Linked DNA regions of Homo sapiens: region 1 is linked to region 2. The links come from fine-mapping of genetic effects on gene expression. Tissue or cell type: spinal cord. Region 2 holds a variant in brackets; the other region holds the start of a gene. All regions are shown on one strand. Distances are between the middles of the regions.

Region 1 (8,179 bases), 190 kb after region 2:
AAGGATGTTTTCAGGAGGCTGGGACATTCAGCTAATAGCAGTTTCAGAAAAGCTGTGGTAAAAACAGTGAGGAAGAAATAATTGAAGAACGAATATAAGAAAGTATACTAAAACTTGACAACATGAATATTCAAACTGAAGGGGCCCACTGAGTTCCTAACAATTACTGATAAGAGCATTGCTAAAGCACATAATCATAAAACGCAAAAATACTAGTGACAACGAAAAAAGATAATCACTTCCAAAAAGAAAAAAAGACTACATTTAAAGGTTTGACAAGCAGAATACCATCAACTTCTCAAGCAGTAATGGCCATAGAGACATTGAAGAAATGCCTTATAAAATACTGAGAAAATATGATTTCTTTCTTGGAATTTTATACCTAAACAAACTAGCAATCAAGGGTGGAATGAATGAATGTGTGTTTATCTATATATTTTATACAAGGTATGCCAGAGACACATTCCAACCTTTGTTTTTACTCACAGAACTGTTTTGTTTGAAGCAGCAATGTACATAGTTAAAAATATTTACTTTTCTAGTATTCTGTACAAGCTAGCAGGGGCCCTGGGTCACAGTCTAGCCAATGATATCTAAGACAAAATCTACTACAAACGCTTATGGAAATATTATTTTCCTGATGAAAATAGATTTGACTGGTTCTGCCTTTTGTCCTTTCTGCTGTATTACTGCCTGGAATGCAGATATGATGCCAAGAGGTACAGCAGCTATCATGAGACCATGAGGAAGTAAGCATAAAGGCAAAAGTCAACATCTACGTATCGCAGATAGAAATAAAAGAAAGTGCTTGGGTCCCCGATCACATCAGTGACCTGACACACCAGTTACACCAGCCACCAAAATACTTACTTTGCAACTGCTTGTAAAGAATACGAGCTTGTAAAAATTGCTGCTGTCATGTTTTTTTGTTATTTGCAGCTGAAAGCATCCCTGACATATTCACAAGTTATCAAAAAAAGTTGTATCTTCCCAACACCCATCCTCAGGAAGTTACTGGAAAACGTGCTCCACAGAAATGAGGAATGAACTAAGAAAAATTTACAGTGCTCAGAATACAGATGATTCAACACAGGAAGGATGCAAGAGGAATTCTTAGCGTCTTGGTAATAAGGGTAGTCCTGAGATAACAGCTGTAATGTATGCCTAAAAAGTAACCCGTGAGTCACATTGGAACAGGAGGATGAGGGGCTCTAGGAAAGATGACATCAGGAAAAAAAAAATCATGGCTAGACTACCTGATGTGTTGGATCATATTGAAAGGAGGTTGATAGTTCTTCCAGAAAGTGTGGAAGTAAAATAGAGGTTGCGTAAGGGATGGGAAAAACCAAAAACCAAGTATTCTCCCTACTCTCACTCTCAGTACCGAATGTTTCACCTCTGGTCACCCAAATGTGTGGGAGTTTCTCCCCACCAACCACCAGTTCTTCAGTAGAGATCAACTGGGAGTCCTACAATTTAACTCTATTCTGACTCTATCTACCTGGAGAAAGCATCAGATCACACAGGTTAAGGGCTCAGTCCCACAAGACTTCCCCCCAATGTCAGATGCCAATCACAAGTAGTAGGTTGTCACACCTATACTTCTGACCAACTAGCTATAAGTTGGGGGTCCACAACCCCCTTCTCAGGTTCAGTTAATTTGCTAGGTAAGCTCACAGAACCACAGAAAACACTTGCTTATATTTACCAGTTTATTATATTAATGAAGGATGTAATTAGGGACACAGATGAAAAACAGTTGGAAGAGATGCAAAGGGCAGAGAATGTGGAAAGGGATACAGAGCTTCTGTGTCCTCTCTAGATACGCCACCCTCCAGGAACTTTGATTTGCTCAGCAATCTGGAAATTCTACAAACCTTGTCCTTTGGGGGGTTTATGGAGGCCTAATTACACAGCCATGATTAATTACACCATTGGCGATCAAGTCAACCTTCAATCCGTCTCCCCTCCCTGGAGGTTGCAAGGGAGGTGGCACTAAAAGTCCCAACTCTAATCATGCCTTAACAAGCTCATTAGCATACAAAAGACACTCTTAATACCCCAGAGATTCCAAGGATTTTAGGAGTTCTGTGCCAGGAACCAGGGGCAGAGACATATTTCTTATTATATCACAATATCACAGCTTGGTGCACAGAAAATAAAGCAAACAAAAATCAAGACAAGGCAATCATTAACTCTAGGAAAAGCAAAAAGTTACAAGAGGGATGAAATGCCATAAAACACTGCACGGCAAAACAGTGAAAAGTATTTGCAAAGTCTTCTTAGTGCAAACATTGAATTTTTTTTTAATGATGGCACTACTATATTGGGTAGTTGAAAAGAAGAGAAGGCAGTGTGTCTGGAGTAGGGTGAGCAAAGGGAGAATGGTAAGAAAGGAGATCAGAAAGGAAAACAGGAATTAGGTCATGCTGAGGTTTGGATTTTCTTTCCTAAGGGTGCTAGAGAGCCACTGGGGAGTTTTAGACAGGAAACTTGAATGCTCTAACTCATGTTTGAAAATAATAACTTTGGCTCTATTGTGGAGGAAAATATACCATGCAGGGATAAGGTGAAAAGCCAGTAGGCCCGTTGGGTAAGAGGGATAAGAGGCTTCTGCAGAAGAGATTTTTCCTATAATGTGGCCTGGACTGGGAAAGGCACACTTCGGGATGTAAGGAAGTGGGTAGGTGGGAATATACTTAGGAGGTTGGTGGCTTACGGAGTAAAAAGAGGGACACAGGGATGACTTCCTGCATGTCAGCACAAGGCATGTGGAGAAGGCAGAGGAGGTTGTTACTGGGTTCAGGAAGGCTGGGGAGGGAATGATTTGCAACTAGAGAGTCTGGGATCTAGGGTTCTGTTTTGGACTTGTTAGGCCGAGTTGCCCCAGAAAGTACCAAGTAGGCAACTGTGCCAGGGCTCAGGGTACAGACAAGGCTAGGGAGAAACTCAGAATATGCTCAGACTCAACAGGTAGTAATTCCTCCTTTTCTCTTGCCAATGCAAAGAAATGTTTCATTATATGTTTGGCGTTTTATACGGCCTCAATGGTATGATTTGGGGCACTGATTGATTGAAGACTTGATACTGAGAATCTAAGGGTAAACAAGCAGTGAATCCTGGAATATATCACAATAGGTAACCCATTCAAAGTGCTTAGGCCTCCCTGGTTTTCTATTTTGGGTCATATCTGTCTTAAGGAAACACTCTCTCTACCAAAGCTGAACTCATAAAATAGTAAAAGTCCTCCCCCGCCCACACACACAAGAAATAATTTCCCATTATTAGCTGGATTTAATAAACATTTTCTTCCAAAAAAAAAATTTGTCCCTGCTCAGTAGACTTCTCTTTATGTGTACAAAGCACGTGCCAAGTTAAAGACCATGTCAGGCACACTTTGAGACACTTTCCGTTTTTTAAAAAGTTCTTTCTTAATAAACATTCAAAAGGACCAATTTGTTTAAAAGTCTTTCAAAGCACAATTCACTACAGGTCGTAGAGTTCTTTAAACCCTCAGCAGGATTCTTTCTTGACTTTCTCATTGCTTTGTGCAATCTTTGTATTTAATCATTTATCCCCGAATTGGTCTTCGCAGTGTGGCTTTTAACAAGAACTGGGTTTTAGCCACATTACAGTAGACGCGGTGGGGGCGGAGGGCAGCAGTGGCAATCGCAAAATAAAACGTATCATAAAGTGGTAACGGTTCGTGATTTAGGCCAGTTGTTGAAAAATAAATGCCTGTTATATAGAATCACAGAACTTGAGAGCTTGCGGCCAAGGGAAGTCGTTCATCGGTGGACCGACAGCGCCCCGGGCGGCAGAAAGAAGGCGGCGGCGGCGGAGACCCGGGGAAGTTGCCGGATTTTTAAAAAGGCACCTGCTGGGTGAGTCCTCACTGTGCAAACGGGAGCCACAGGTGCCCGATTTTAAGGGGCTACAACTCGGGAAAACCTAAGTCTGTAAAACTAAGTACGTTAAACTAAGTAAGTTCTCGCTGTGCACCAAGTTGATGGGGGCGATTATTTACGGCGGAGAAACTGAGTGGAGGAAGGAGGGAGAATTCCGCTAAAGTTTGCCTGCGACTGACAGCTAGGGAGTGACCTGGAAGCCAGGAAGAGGGGCAGAGAGGAAACTAAAGAAGTAGGTAAGAGAGTCAGTTTATGAAAATAGAGCCTGCTGTGGAGAGCAGCAGGCACACCTGCGGAGGAGGGGGCTGCCTCACCTGCGGGGCCGCTGCGCGCCCCCCTAAGTGTGTTAGCGGGGGAGGCGGGGCTGGAAAGGAAACCTGGTGAAGGGCTGGCCCGGAGCCTGGGGTGGGGATATTCACTGCGGGATAGGGCCAGCAAGAGGACCCGACACGCATCGTCCCGAGTGACACGTGTAAATGTCAAGATACAGAGACATCTGCAAATGTCACCCAAGAGGGTGAGGACGGGGGAGCGGTCCCGAGGCTGTGCCCTCCGGGGCAGGTACTGGCTCCTGTGGGGCTGCGGGCCAAGTGTCGCCCTTCCCCAAGGAATTGGCACCTGGGGGGGGGGGGTCGGTCTCGCCGCGCTGGAAGCGCAAGCCCCGGGGCTCCGGAGATGCGCCGGGGCGCGTCGCCCCTCGGGGCAGCCCTGGACCTCGGCGCGCCCAGGCGCAGCGTGCGGTGCCCTCGGCGGGGCGGGCAGCGAGCCGCCCTAGTTCGGCGACTTACCTCGGGCCTCGCAGGGCGCGAGCAGAGCACCGGCCAGGGCGAGCAGGAGGGCGCGGGCGGGGGACACGGGCAGCGGGCGCGCTGCCATCGTCGCCGGCCTTCAGTGCAGCAGCTCTCGGGCCCGGCGGCGAGCGCTGCACCATCCCACGCGGGCGCCGAGCCGGGGCCGGGCGTCGCGACCGGAGGGATTTCCTGCCTCGGCGAGTCAGCTCCGGAGCCCTCGCGCAGCGCCCGCGCCGCCGCTGAGCTCTTCTAGCCTTTCATTTTTAAAAAAGTTTCCCCCCGTGTGTGTGCGTGCGTGCGCGCGCGCGCGCCGTTCTGGCACAAGCCAGCCTTGACCGTTGCAATAAATGAGCAAACTGTCCGAGTTGGCCCGGGGACTAGGAAGAGCGTTAGTGAGAGAAGGCAGGCCTGTGAAATGGATCCACGGCCAGCAGTCACCGTTCTTATTACCGCGGAACAAATTATTGTCTCCCCCGCACCCCCGCCAGTTGGCGGCGTCCCGCGGGTCCTAGAGACCGCTCGGGTCCCCCCGCCAGGGTCCCGCCCCGAGCCGCGGCTCGCTCACCCCCGAGGGTGGGCGGCTCAGACGTGGCTCAGTGGCGTCCGGGCGCCCGGAGCGCACACGTCCCCGCCCCAGGATGATGTGGCCGCAGGGCCCGGGGCGCCCGGCTGCCAAGCGCACATGCGGCGGCACGGTCCAGCTTTTCAGGCTGAAGCTGGAAACGATGACTCTGCTACTCGCTCCCCGGCTCTCTGGGAACCCTCGGAGTGCGGGTCAGGTCTCCACCGCGGCCCACAGCCCGGCGCGCGACCCCGCCCGGCCCTAAGCGCCCAAAGGGGCATCTCTCGCCCGAGAAACAAGCTTGGACTCGCAGGCACAAGACACCTGGGCGTTACTTTTGATCAACAGTGTTAGGTTTTACGTTGATAGATTGGCTCACGTTTCCATTCCATGACCTGGACCCAGAAAAGGGTGTACAGTGACGTTCCCCAAACTTTCCTGATTGTAAGAAGCACCTGGGTTGGCTTGTTAAAAAGATTCCCGGGCGCCCTCCTACGCTTTCAGAATGAGACTCTCCAGGCTGTGAGGCCAGGGGAGCCCAGGGTGTTTGGAGAAACACCAATGAAAGAATGGTGCGCCTTGCCTTCTCATCCTTGTTCCGGGCTGACCCCACCTCTTCAGCCTCGCTCGGCCCTCAGGGAGACCATGAAAAGCAGCAGCGAGGGGGCCCGCACAGACAGAAATGGCTGGAGCTATGGAGGATGGCTGATGCCCACCCTGCGGGTTACCATGATTCCCAACCTTGGGGACTTATTAGAATAGTAAGAGTTAAAGACATTGCCAGCCCCAGACACCAGTTAACTCAGTTTCCCACAATGCGTGGAGCTCAATAGTTTTCAAAGCCTCAGGTGATTCTACTGTGCTGCTCAGACCTAGGACCACCTGCAGAAATTCCATCCTGGTCCTGCGACCTCGCACCGATTCCTGACGGAGCACCCACTCCTAGGAGGCGGTTATCCAGCATTTGAGGAAGCTGCCTTCCATACCATCTCTTCCCACTGCAGAGGAGTTTTCTCAGGAGTTCCCTCCCACGGCAGGTTTTGCAGTGTTCCCAAAACCCAGGTCGATCCTCCTAACAAGGTGCAGGACTTTCTTTTTAAAAAACCTTAGTGGGAAGCACAGGCTCTCCAGCCCCCTTCCCAATGCTGCCATATCTCAGTACCAGATCTGGAAACCAGGCCTGGTTCAAGCCCTGTGTCATATCTAACCGTACTACCAACCAGCGTTGCAGTGTACTTCTTTTGTTCATTCATTCAGTCAATCTACATGAGCAACCCTATGTTAGAACTTGGGAAACTAAACGAGAAAGCCTCTTGCCTTCAAAGACTTTTCTTTCTGATCAAACTGATAAATCATCATTATTGGACAGTGTGAGCTAGTTACTTAACCTAGTTAATAATGATTAGGCTTGTTTACTGATATGGTTTGGCTGTGTCCCCACCCAAATCTCATCTTGAATTCCCATGTGTTGTGGGAGGGACCTGGTGGGAGGTAATTGAATCATGGGGGCAGGTCTTTCCTGTGCTGTTCTCATGGTAGTGGATAAGTCTCAAAAGATCTGATGGTTTTAAAAAGAGGAGTTCCCCTCCACAAGCTCTCTCTCACTTTCTGCCTGCTACCATCCATGTAAGACATGACTTGCCCCTTCATGTCTTCTGCCCTAGCCATGTGGAAATGTAGGTCCATTAAACGTTTTTCCTGTATAATTTTACCCAGTCTTGTGTATGTCTTTATCAGCAGCACGAAAACAGACTATTTACTACTTCATAATTCATTACATACCTCGTATAATCGGAGTATTGTGCTAACGTCTTTCACCTGCATTATTTCATTTTTTAAGTCCTGAATATACAGATGAGGAAACTGCAGCATAGAGATGTAGCTTTCCCACCACCACACAGTGAAGTAGGTCAGAGCCCAACCTCAGATCTGTTAAAGATAAAGCCTGTTTCTTTAAGGCTGAGTTCCAACCTTCAGTTTTAGCAGCTGTTAAGTGAAGGTAAAATACAAACCTCCCAGGTGGTTGTGAGCACCAGGTGAAATAATGCAATGTCTCCCAACCCACCTGATCCCTGGGATGTCTGTTAAGAATTCAATTCCTCTGGCGTTTGCACTGGAGATTCTCATTAGAAAGGTCTGGGAAGGACAAGTTTTAGCAAGTACTTAGGTGATCCTGATACTTGTGGCCCATAGAACTTCAGACACATCGACGCAAGAGAATTAAAAATTGTTTTCTTCCAGCTCAAAGGGCCAGATTTGCTTGCAGATGAGCCCAGCCACTGGCCTCTCGGATCCTTCTGACTGGTTAAATGGTTTATTCACAATGGACCTAACATGTGCTGTGCACTGGGCTGGGGGCCTTGTATACATTTTCTCTTAATGATCAATTTATTTTCGCTCTTTCATATTCAATTGTTAATGTTGACTGTAAAAGTCCAATTTCTTTTAAACCTGGATGTTGCAAAGCTTCCTCCAAAGAACTAAATGTGCCCCAAGACTGTCCTTGATTTGTTTCTGACTGAACGAAAGAAAACAGCCATTGCAGAGGAAAAATGAAGAAAAATAAAATCCTGGCTGCAAGCTCTGGATTTCAACCCTGTAATTCACCATCTCTGTGAAGCAAGCGGCCTGGGCTGACACTGTCTCCACAAAGCCTTCATAGACATCAATAACAGCCAGCTAAGGCAAAGAGCAAATCCTGCGTCTGGCAGATGGTCTGTCTTTGGATGGAAATTCTGCCTCCTCATTCACAGGAAATGGAAGCCGACATCACATTCAATACTGGATTGTTAGGTAATGGTGTGGGGTCAGAGGCCAGGATCTACACACGAAAATTTCAGATAGATGGCTGGTTGTCCCTTCCTTTCTGGAAGAATTGACCTTTGCAATACTGTTTCCTGTGTGCTATTTTCGTTTAA
Region 2 (8,179 bases):
CAGGGAAAATCAGGGAATGTCGTTTGGCTTCAGTGGGAGACTAGGGGACAAAGGAAAAATTCAGATAGGGCAGGGGATCTAGGGTATAGAGGCCTTGGAAGCCGGGCTGACAAATTTGACCCATCATTTTGGGTAAGAGGGAGCTGCTGTGGCTTTAAGATGGGAAGAAGAGAAAGAAGTAGAAATCTGCCGTGCAATCCAGACCTGAGATAAAGAAGACACGGTCCCAGGTGGAGGCAGGGGTGGTGTGGAAGACATGGCTAGGTGAGGAGCTATTTGTAAAGACAGACTTAGAGATGACGAAGCAAAGATGAGCTGGTTGGAAAGGGCACTGACTAGGGCCCCTACAGGGAGTGACAAGGCATCTTTTGGACAAAGTCCATTGGTGAACTCTGGAAGAAGCCAGCTGCATCTGATCTGTCCTCGAATCCCTGAGGCCGAGCCTGGTGCCCAGAACATAGAACAAGCTCGGGATACATGTCCCAGGCTTGAGCGGAAGGGAGGCAAGTTGAGGGTTTTGGTGATGCAGCCTGGAGGCTGTGCACCACAGGAGGTCCACAGCAAGACTGTGAGTGACCCTGTGGGAGAGGACAGTCGTGTGCTTCCCTCCTGGGGTTGCAGAGGAAGCACAACCAAGCCAGGAGTCCGAAGAGGAGCAGCACAAAGATGGAATGGAAGTCAGGGAATTTCTCATTGCTGGGAACTAAATGACTGATTTAAGGAAGGCCGGATGGTTGAGCATCTGAGGACACAGAGGTAAGCCTGAGAAACAGACCTGGGTTTGGCATGCAGGAGCCTGCCTGGCTGCATTTGGTATTTATATATCACTGGTGCCCAACAAATAGTCAATGAATTTGGAGGCTGAAGTAAAGATACTTAGGTGGCCATGTGACAGAGAGAAGTGATGCTGGTAGGGACATCTTTGGGAAGGGAGGGAGGTTATGAGTGGAGAAGAAGCAAGAAAATGCTTCACAGGCCTGAAAGCCCCAGACAGCGGGTGGTACGTGGAAGGCCTAAGTCTCCACCACGCATGGGGTGACATCACCTCCGTGAACTGCAGGAATGGGAGAGGGAAGGGACTGGGGCTTCAATGTGAAATTACAGTTCTTCATTCCACACAAAGACATGTGTTCCAAATTAACATCACTGTTTCCTAAGAAGCGTGAAGATGCAAACCAGGTATCTCCTCATGGGTTGGGGCTGGTGTTCAGTCAAGATGGACAGCCACTACGGGCCTTGCTCTCCTCCCTTGAGTCCACGGCCCTCCCTGGAAAGCCCCCTGTGGGAGGTGCAGATGCAGGACAGGAGAGGGGTCAGTCACCGTTGCAGACGCCCATGCTCTCCGGCATCAGTAGACACATTTCAAAGACTGAATCTCAACCCTGCCATGGCAGAGGGGAGGTCACGCTATCAGGAAGGTCTGTACCTTTTTCTGGTCTAATGAAGTGTAAGACGACAGAATTTACACAACCAGGAGAGAGACCAGAAGGGCCCGGCAAGTCTCATCACCCACATGCTGGATTTGTCTCCAGCTCCTGGAGCCATTGGGAGGGGCCATATGTTCTGCATTTCACCGGCTCTTGCAGTGAAATATTTGCTATCTGGTTTGTGGACGCAAAATGTGCAACCAGGGCCAGTGTAGCCTTTAGCTCGTGTGAATCCTGCAGCTTCTGTTTCTGGGCCTGAAGACAGAGATCCAGCACCTCCCCTGCTGCTCCTACCCAGCTGTGGGTGCCGGGGATCTCTGCCTGCACCTCTGGATGAGGCTGAGTGCCTGGCACGCATCCTTGCAAAGCAAATGAACAACCATTACAAACAGACTCAGTTTTCATCTCAAGGTAGGTCTGTGCTTAAACCTGACAATATGCTCTTTCCATTTTATTTTTCTTTAAACCCCACCAAATTTCATGTGTATTTATGAATATACTGTTACTGCCAAATTCCTGGCACTTTATTCATATTAGAAACTCCCAGCTGTGGTGAGAAAAGAGGAGAACATTTTTCAAGAGGGGAAGAAATGACTTTTCCCAGTATATCAGAAATATGTCCCATTTTATTACCACTATCTGATATCAAAGAGTAAGGAAGGTAGGCTTGAGCAGAAGGCCTGTAGATTCCAGAAATTTCTTTCAGGGCATCTGTGTCTTTTTATGGTGAGCTTTGTGCTTTTGGGGCCCTAGGAATAAGGAATTTAAGTTATGTAGTCAAGTCCTCAGTCTCACTTTAAAACTACCTGCTTACCAGGTTGAAGACCCCAATAAGTTTAGACTAACCACCTGAATGAAGGTTTCGTTTGGGGCAATTATCTAGATGATTCAGTAAAGTGTAAGAAAAAGTGATTTCAAAGCCTTGGACAATGACAGGAGGATGAGGCAACCCAGCCCTGCTGAAAACTTATCCACCTAATCACCATCGAGATCAGCGGGCCTGACCATCCCGCTGAAATGGCCGGTGTTCATTTCAAGTCATGCCAACAATCATATCTGCTTGCAGTGCATGAGTCATTTTAGGCATAACGGCCACCAGCCAATTTCAACGACTACCCATGACTCAGCCATATTGTCAAGTTCGCAGCCCCTCCTGGCCTCCAGCTAATGCGTTGGGATTCTACCGCAGAAACGCTCCCATAAACCTCTGCTCATCAAGTGTCATCAGCCCCATGCATCATGTGACCCTGTCTGTGGGAAGCTGCTGCTGCTTCCCAGAGTGTGTCTCGGACCGTCTTACACATCTAAACAAAACCAGGTTTTCATTTTTAGACTTCAGTGAGTTATTTTACTAAATCAGAGAAAAATAAACATTTAGAATTACAAATGGAATACATATAAAGTTTCTGTACATGTCAGTAATATTCCCTGATAATGAAAGAATAAGGATGCATTCTTTTAAAATAAGTCATCCTATCCCTGTCTCTCTAGCTAATTGAGATTGTGCATGACCTTGAGAAAGGCATTAAGGTTTGTTCTATTAACAAACATAGACAGTGTGCACCTGATCAAAGCAATGCTTTTTGGTCAAATGATTGACTAACAAAAACAAAAGCCCACTGGCACAAAATACAGGCACTCAATGGGGTCTTCCACACGCACCATGACCTATGTATATAGTCCATCAACAGAAGGAAGGACAGTGACTTACACACTAGTTACCAGACAATTACCACCTACGAGATGCTCTTTAATATTCACTGTTCTATTAATTAGAATATTCTATGAATTGGTATTTCCATGCAGGGTCTGACCTGGGCCACATAATGAGGTGGAACAGGTGCAAGCTGTTAAGGTTGGCAAGAAGTGCAGCTCACACGGGGACTGGATGGTCTGAGGGCACTAGGAGGGAGCAGGAAGGACTCCAGACTTCCTAGGTCTTCAGTTAACTCAATGGTTTTTGTCTTTGAAAATGGAGTAACAGATTAATAACCATGACATTGATCCCCAAACACGATCAGATGCCTTCAAGTATGGTCTCAAGGCTCAGGAAGTTTATGCTCTAATTATGAAAATGAAATTGAACAGTAACCAACACCAATAAAAGCAGGAGCATTTGGAGGTTAAAAACCAGAATTTTGGAGTCAGAAAAATCAGCACGACTCCTGTCTCCATCTCCCACTACTTGGTGAGATCTTGGGCAAGGGATTTGCCTCCCTCAGCCTCAGCATCTTAATCGACAACACCACGATATAATGGTTCCCACACTGTGGAGCTGCCGTGGGGTGCCAATAAGATAATGTGTGCAAAGAGCTCAGTTACGGTGCCCAGTGAACTCTCCAGGAACGTTAGCTATTTATGGCAAGAGCAACATCAGCAGCAACAAAGCACCAGATGAGAAGCTCTAAATGGTTCAGAATGTTCAAAGGAGAGAGGATTCTCAATAGGTTGGAGTCTCCAAGACTCTAGAGAAAGAGCCCAGGATGTGGTTTGAGATGGACGTTGGAGAGTTGTTAGGACTTAGATTTTGTGTACGTGATGGGGGCAGGGTGGTGGTGGTGGTTAAATCAAAGCAACAGAGATGCTGTAAGCAAAGGCACAGATATTGTAAATGGCACATGGAATGTTCTAGAAACAGTAGACCAGTCTGGGCAGGGCATAAATTTCTCATATGGGAGGTAATAGGACGTGATCCTAGAAAGGTGGGGTTGTCCAGGCTGGAAAAGAGTATGAGCATCAGGCTAAAGTAGTCAGAATTTCTTCCACAGGCCAAATGGTTATTGAACAACGGAGTGAGAAAAAGGGATCATTTGAGAAAGGATAACATGATGTGTGCCGTGGGTTGAACCGTCCTTCCAAAAAGATACGTTTAACTCCTACTTCCCGGCACCTGTGATGGTGACTTTATTTAAAAATAGGTTCTTTGCAGACGTAACCAAGCTAAGTTGAGGTCATACTGGAGTAGTGTGGGCCTTACAAGGAGAGGGAAATTTGAACACAGGCACGCAGAGAGGAGGCTGCCATGAGACGAAACAGAGATACAGAAGAGAAACAGGGGAAAAGGCCAAGTGACAAGGGAGGCAGAGACTGGAGTGTTGTTGCCACGAGCCAAAAACGCCAGGGAACCCCAGGCAAGCACCAGAAGCTGGAAGAGGCGAGGAAGGGTTCCTCCCAGAGCCTTGGGAGGGAACGTGGCCCTGCCAGAAGTCACAAGTCCTGGATTTAGGATTTCTGCCTTCCAGAGCTGCGAGAGACCGAGTTTCTGTTGTTTGAAGCCACTCAGTTTGTGGTGCTTCATTACAGCAGCCCTGGGAGATGGGGAACTGGCAATGTACAGGGAAGACATGATGTAGTCACCAGATGAGAGAGTGGTGGTGACAAGGAACAGAGCTGAGAAGCCATTCTTAGAGTGGATCAAAGACCTGGAGATACAACGGTGAAATGAAGAAAGAAAAAGGGAAGTGGTAAGAACCCAGAGAACCGAGGTGCTCCCATTGATAGAAAGAAAGACCAGGCAGAAACAAAAACAGAGAGGTGTTGGCTCTGAGCAAGACCTTCTACCTCGAGCAGAGAGGCCTGCCCCAGAGAGAGGCAGCAGGCTAGTTCAGCA[A/G]CGTTGTCGTTCACATAAAGAACGTCCAGGGAAAGAATGGGCGGGCCTTCTTTTTGCAAGGTCAGAGCTCGTCCAGTGGAAAGGCTCTGGGGCTGCAACGCACAGGATGTACAGCACCAGTGCCAGGCCTCCTTGTCCACTTCCATTCACTCTTGTCTTAATGCCTTGGCAATTAAAACTTCCAAACATCTCAGTCGATTCTTCTTCCACTGTGGCTGGAGATCCACCCCATGTGGGGAAGTTCTACTCCGAAACTTATTCCCATGGGTTTCTAGCTATTAGTACCTGTGGAAAACTTTTGCTTTATTTCAAGATCTTTAGAAAAATAAACAGGGCATACCATAATTGTTGGTTAATTTGTTTTCAGTTAATTGATTCCAGATTTCAGCCTTTCTGACTATTACCACTTTTACCTTTTTCAGCCTATCCTTAAGTTCACTGAACTGTAATTTTGTATAAATTTAATGACTATCCAATGACATTACGAAGTCTGAAAATCTTGCTTTTGTATCTTGAGGTGTCCTACCCTGTAATCCGAGGGTTTGAAAAACCCCAAAATGCTCTACTACTTCTCTCTCTCTCTCTCTCTCTCTTTAACCAGAAGAAGATAAAGGTCACTCTGCAGTCAGAATAATTGCTGCAGTGGATTGAAGATATTTTTAAAAACTTTCTCTCAAAATTACAGATTTAAGATGACAACGAAAGTAAAATTGCAGTTGAACTCCAAAGCAAAACCTTCAACTAAAAATACAAACTACTCACAACGTACAATTTTGCCGGGGCCAAGAGGCAAAAGAGCTTCATATCAACAGAATTCTCATAATCTCTGAGTGTCTACAGAACTCAAGTGGCTTCAAGTTGTATAAAGTCCCCAAATCACTGCAGGTTCGCAGACGTACGTGTCTCTGAAATGCTCTAACATTTTTCCGAAGGTCAAAGTGAGACTCGATCTTTAAACCACCGAAAGAAAAAAATGTCTCCTTTCAAGACTTTTTATTTCACATTGAAATTAAAAATTAAAATTAAAAAGTTTCACATTGTTGCAGATAGTAGAATACAGGGGAAATTGTGTACAAAGTTCCATACTGGCTCCTTTTAACTGGACATCTTTTGTGAAAGTTCAGGTGCCCAACTAGTTGTCATCAGCGAAGGAGTAAGGAAGGAAGAATGAATTATGGAGACAGCGATGGTCAGGTTTTTAATTCAGTAAAAACCACAAAAAACCTTTATTTCTAAACTGAAAGTTTCTTACCTTAATAACTAATCAGAGTGTACATTTTATTTAATCTATAGGGATTGTAGTAGTAATTTCCTATAAGAAACTAGAAAGTATTCTTTATTTGACATGCATATTAATATGTCTATGCCTTCCTACCAACACCTATTGGAAAGAATTATAGTCTGAAGGAGAAGAAATAGCTTGGTTCAGTTGTTACTAAAATCATATTTAAGGTAAATATTGCAACAGACGTTTTATTTTATAAAAAGCAAGTATAGTGAAATTCCTGTGTGGAATGGAGGTGCTTCAGCCAAGAAAAATTATGTTTTACACATTTCAGACGTTCTTTTTGAATAAATATAGAAGCATAAACACGCAGAAATACAGAAGTCAGGAAGAAAAATGATTTGGGCATAAACTCTATCAAAGCATCAAATACCATTTTACTGAAGAGCTGTTCAATTTTTAGATAAGAAATCATGTTTCACAAACATACCCTAAATACCCTTTGCTTATCTGACAGGATCTGATCAAATATCTTTTGAGGTAAAATTTTCCTTCCTACTCCCACAAATTCTTCAGAAACTGCTTAGCAGAACTATTTAAAAAAATAAGTTTCATAACTTTGGGCAATGTGAGAGTGTGACCCACAGAGACTGTGCTATGGCCCAGTTCTGTGTTGGGAGTGTGGCTGCCTGTGATGGACTTCACCCTCTGTGGTGGACTTCACTCTCTGTGGTAGATGTATTCTTGGAGAAATCAAGCAAATCAGAGTGAGTGCGCGCGCGCGCGTGTGTGTGTGTGTGTGTGTGTGAACCAAACTAAGTCATCTTTTCAATGTCCCCAGAAGTTCACCCAGGAGTTGAAGGAATTCTGCAACAAATTATTCACAGTAGGAGCTGCCAATGCAAGGCTGCCAGTGGCGAATGCTTTGGCTGCTGAACCCCCAGCTCCTATCTCCAGCCCCTGGTTCCTCATGGAGAAGCCACCTCCTACTTCAGAGGCTAGAAATGGAAATCTCCCCACCCCTGGCAGCCAGCTCCAGTCAGTGGATCTGCTGGGAAACTTTCTAGAAACATTTTCTTCCCTAACAAGAAGCGTAATACAAGGGAGGAAACATGGCTTCCCTTTCCCCTCCATTAGACATTGTTGGGTGAAGATGTGATGCTTGGAACTGGAGCTTTCCATCACCTGTGACTAGGAGAAAGCCCAGAGAATTGCAGAAAGGCTGGCCCAGGATGCAGGTGCTGTCAGCTGCTAAATTAGCCTCACCTAGCAGTGCCACCTCTGGGTGACTGTGTCTGTGAGACAATAAGCTCCTCATTGCTGAGTCACTCTGGGTCAGGTATTCTGTTACTCACATGGAACAGAAAGCAGATTCCCGCTTCATGCCCTTTCTTCAGGGCATTTTCCTCTGGGAAATCCCTCTCATCCCTCAACGTTTAGTCTATGAGTAACTCAAGAGACCGCAAATGAAAATGTGGCACCTTTGTTCATAAATTGTTAAGAATTTAAAGACGGTGATAGCAGAGCATTAAACCAACCATGGGCCCTTCTAGCTGTGAGGCCTTGTGTGACCACTCGGACTGCACATTCATGAAGGTGGCCCTATTTACGGGCTTATCTTACCTACCAAATGGGTAGCACATTTTTTCTGTAAAAGGCCAGATCATAAATATTACAGGCTTTCCAGGCCTCACAGTCTTTGTCACAACTACCCAACTCTGCGCTATTCTAAGTAGATTAGATAGGTTGGAACCCACCCACAGTCACAAGAATGGGCATGAGAACCACGTTTGCCAAGAGTAACCCCAGGTTCTTGGCCAGGGTGGATTGGCTCGGGGCTAGGCACCTGACGGAAGCCAGGCCATTTGGACACCACCAAGTCTTTCCAGAAGGTACTTGGGAAAGATGGTACCTTTC

The links. PIP is the estimated chance that this variant, and not a neighbour inherited with it, causes the effect.
Region 1: it holds the start of ADAM12, and the variant in region 2 is fine-mapped to the expression of ADAM12 in spinal cord (GTEx, PIP above 0.99).

Annotation. Positions count from the first base shown.
Region 1 is chr10:126,383,362-126,391,540 of GRCh38, forward strand. It overlaps ADAM12 (ADAM metallopeptidase domain 12), which reads right to left and starts at 5,116. Exons shown (of 23, transcript NM_001288973.2): 1 at 4,697-5,116. The coding sequence starts at 4,784.
Region 2 is chr10:126,196,893-126,205,071 of GRCh38, forward strand. The region is part of intron 3 of ADAM12 (ADAM metallopeptidase domain 12); the gene reads right to left. Among named protein-coding and RNA genes, the nearest start is that of ADAM12, 190 kb to the right of the region's middle. RefSeq lists a silencer at 3,539-3,719. The variant A/G (reference allele first, on the strand shown) is at 5,038.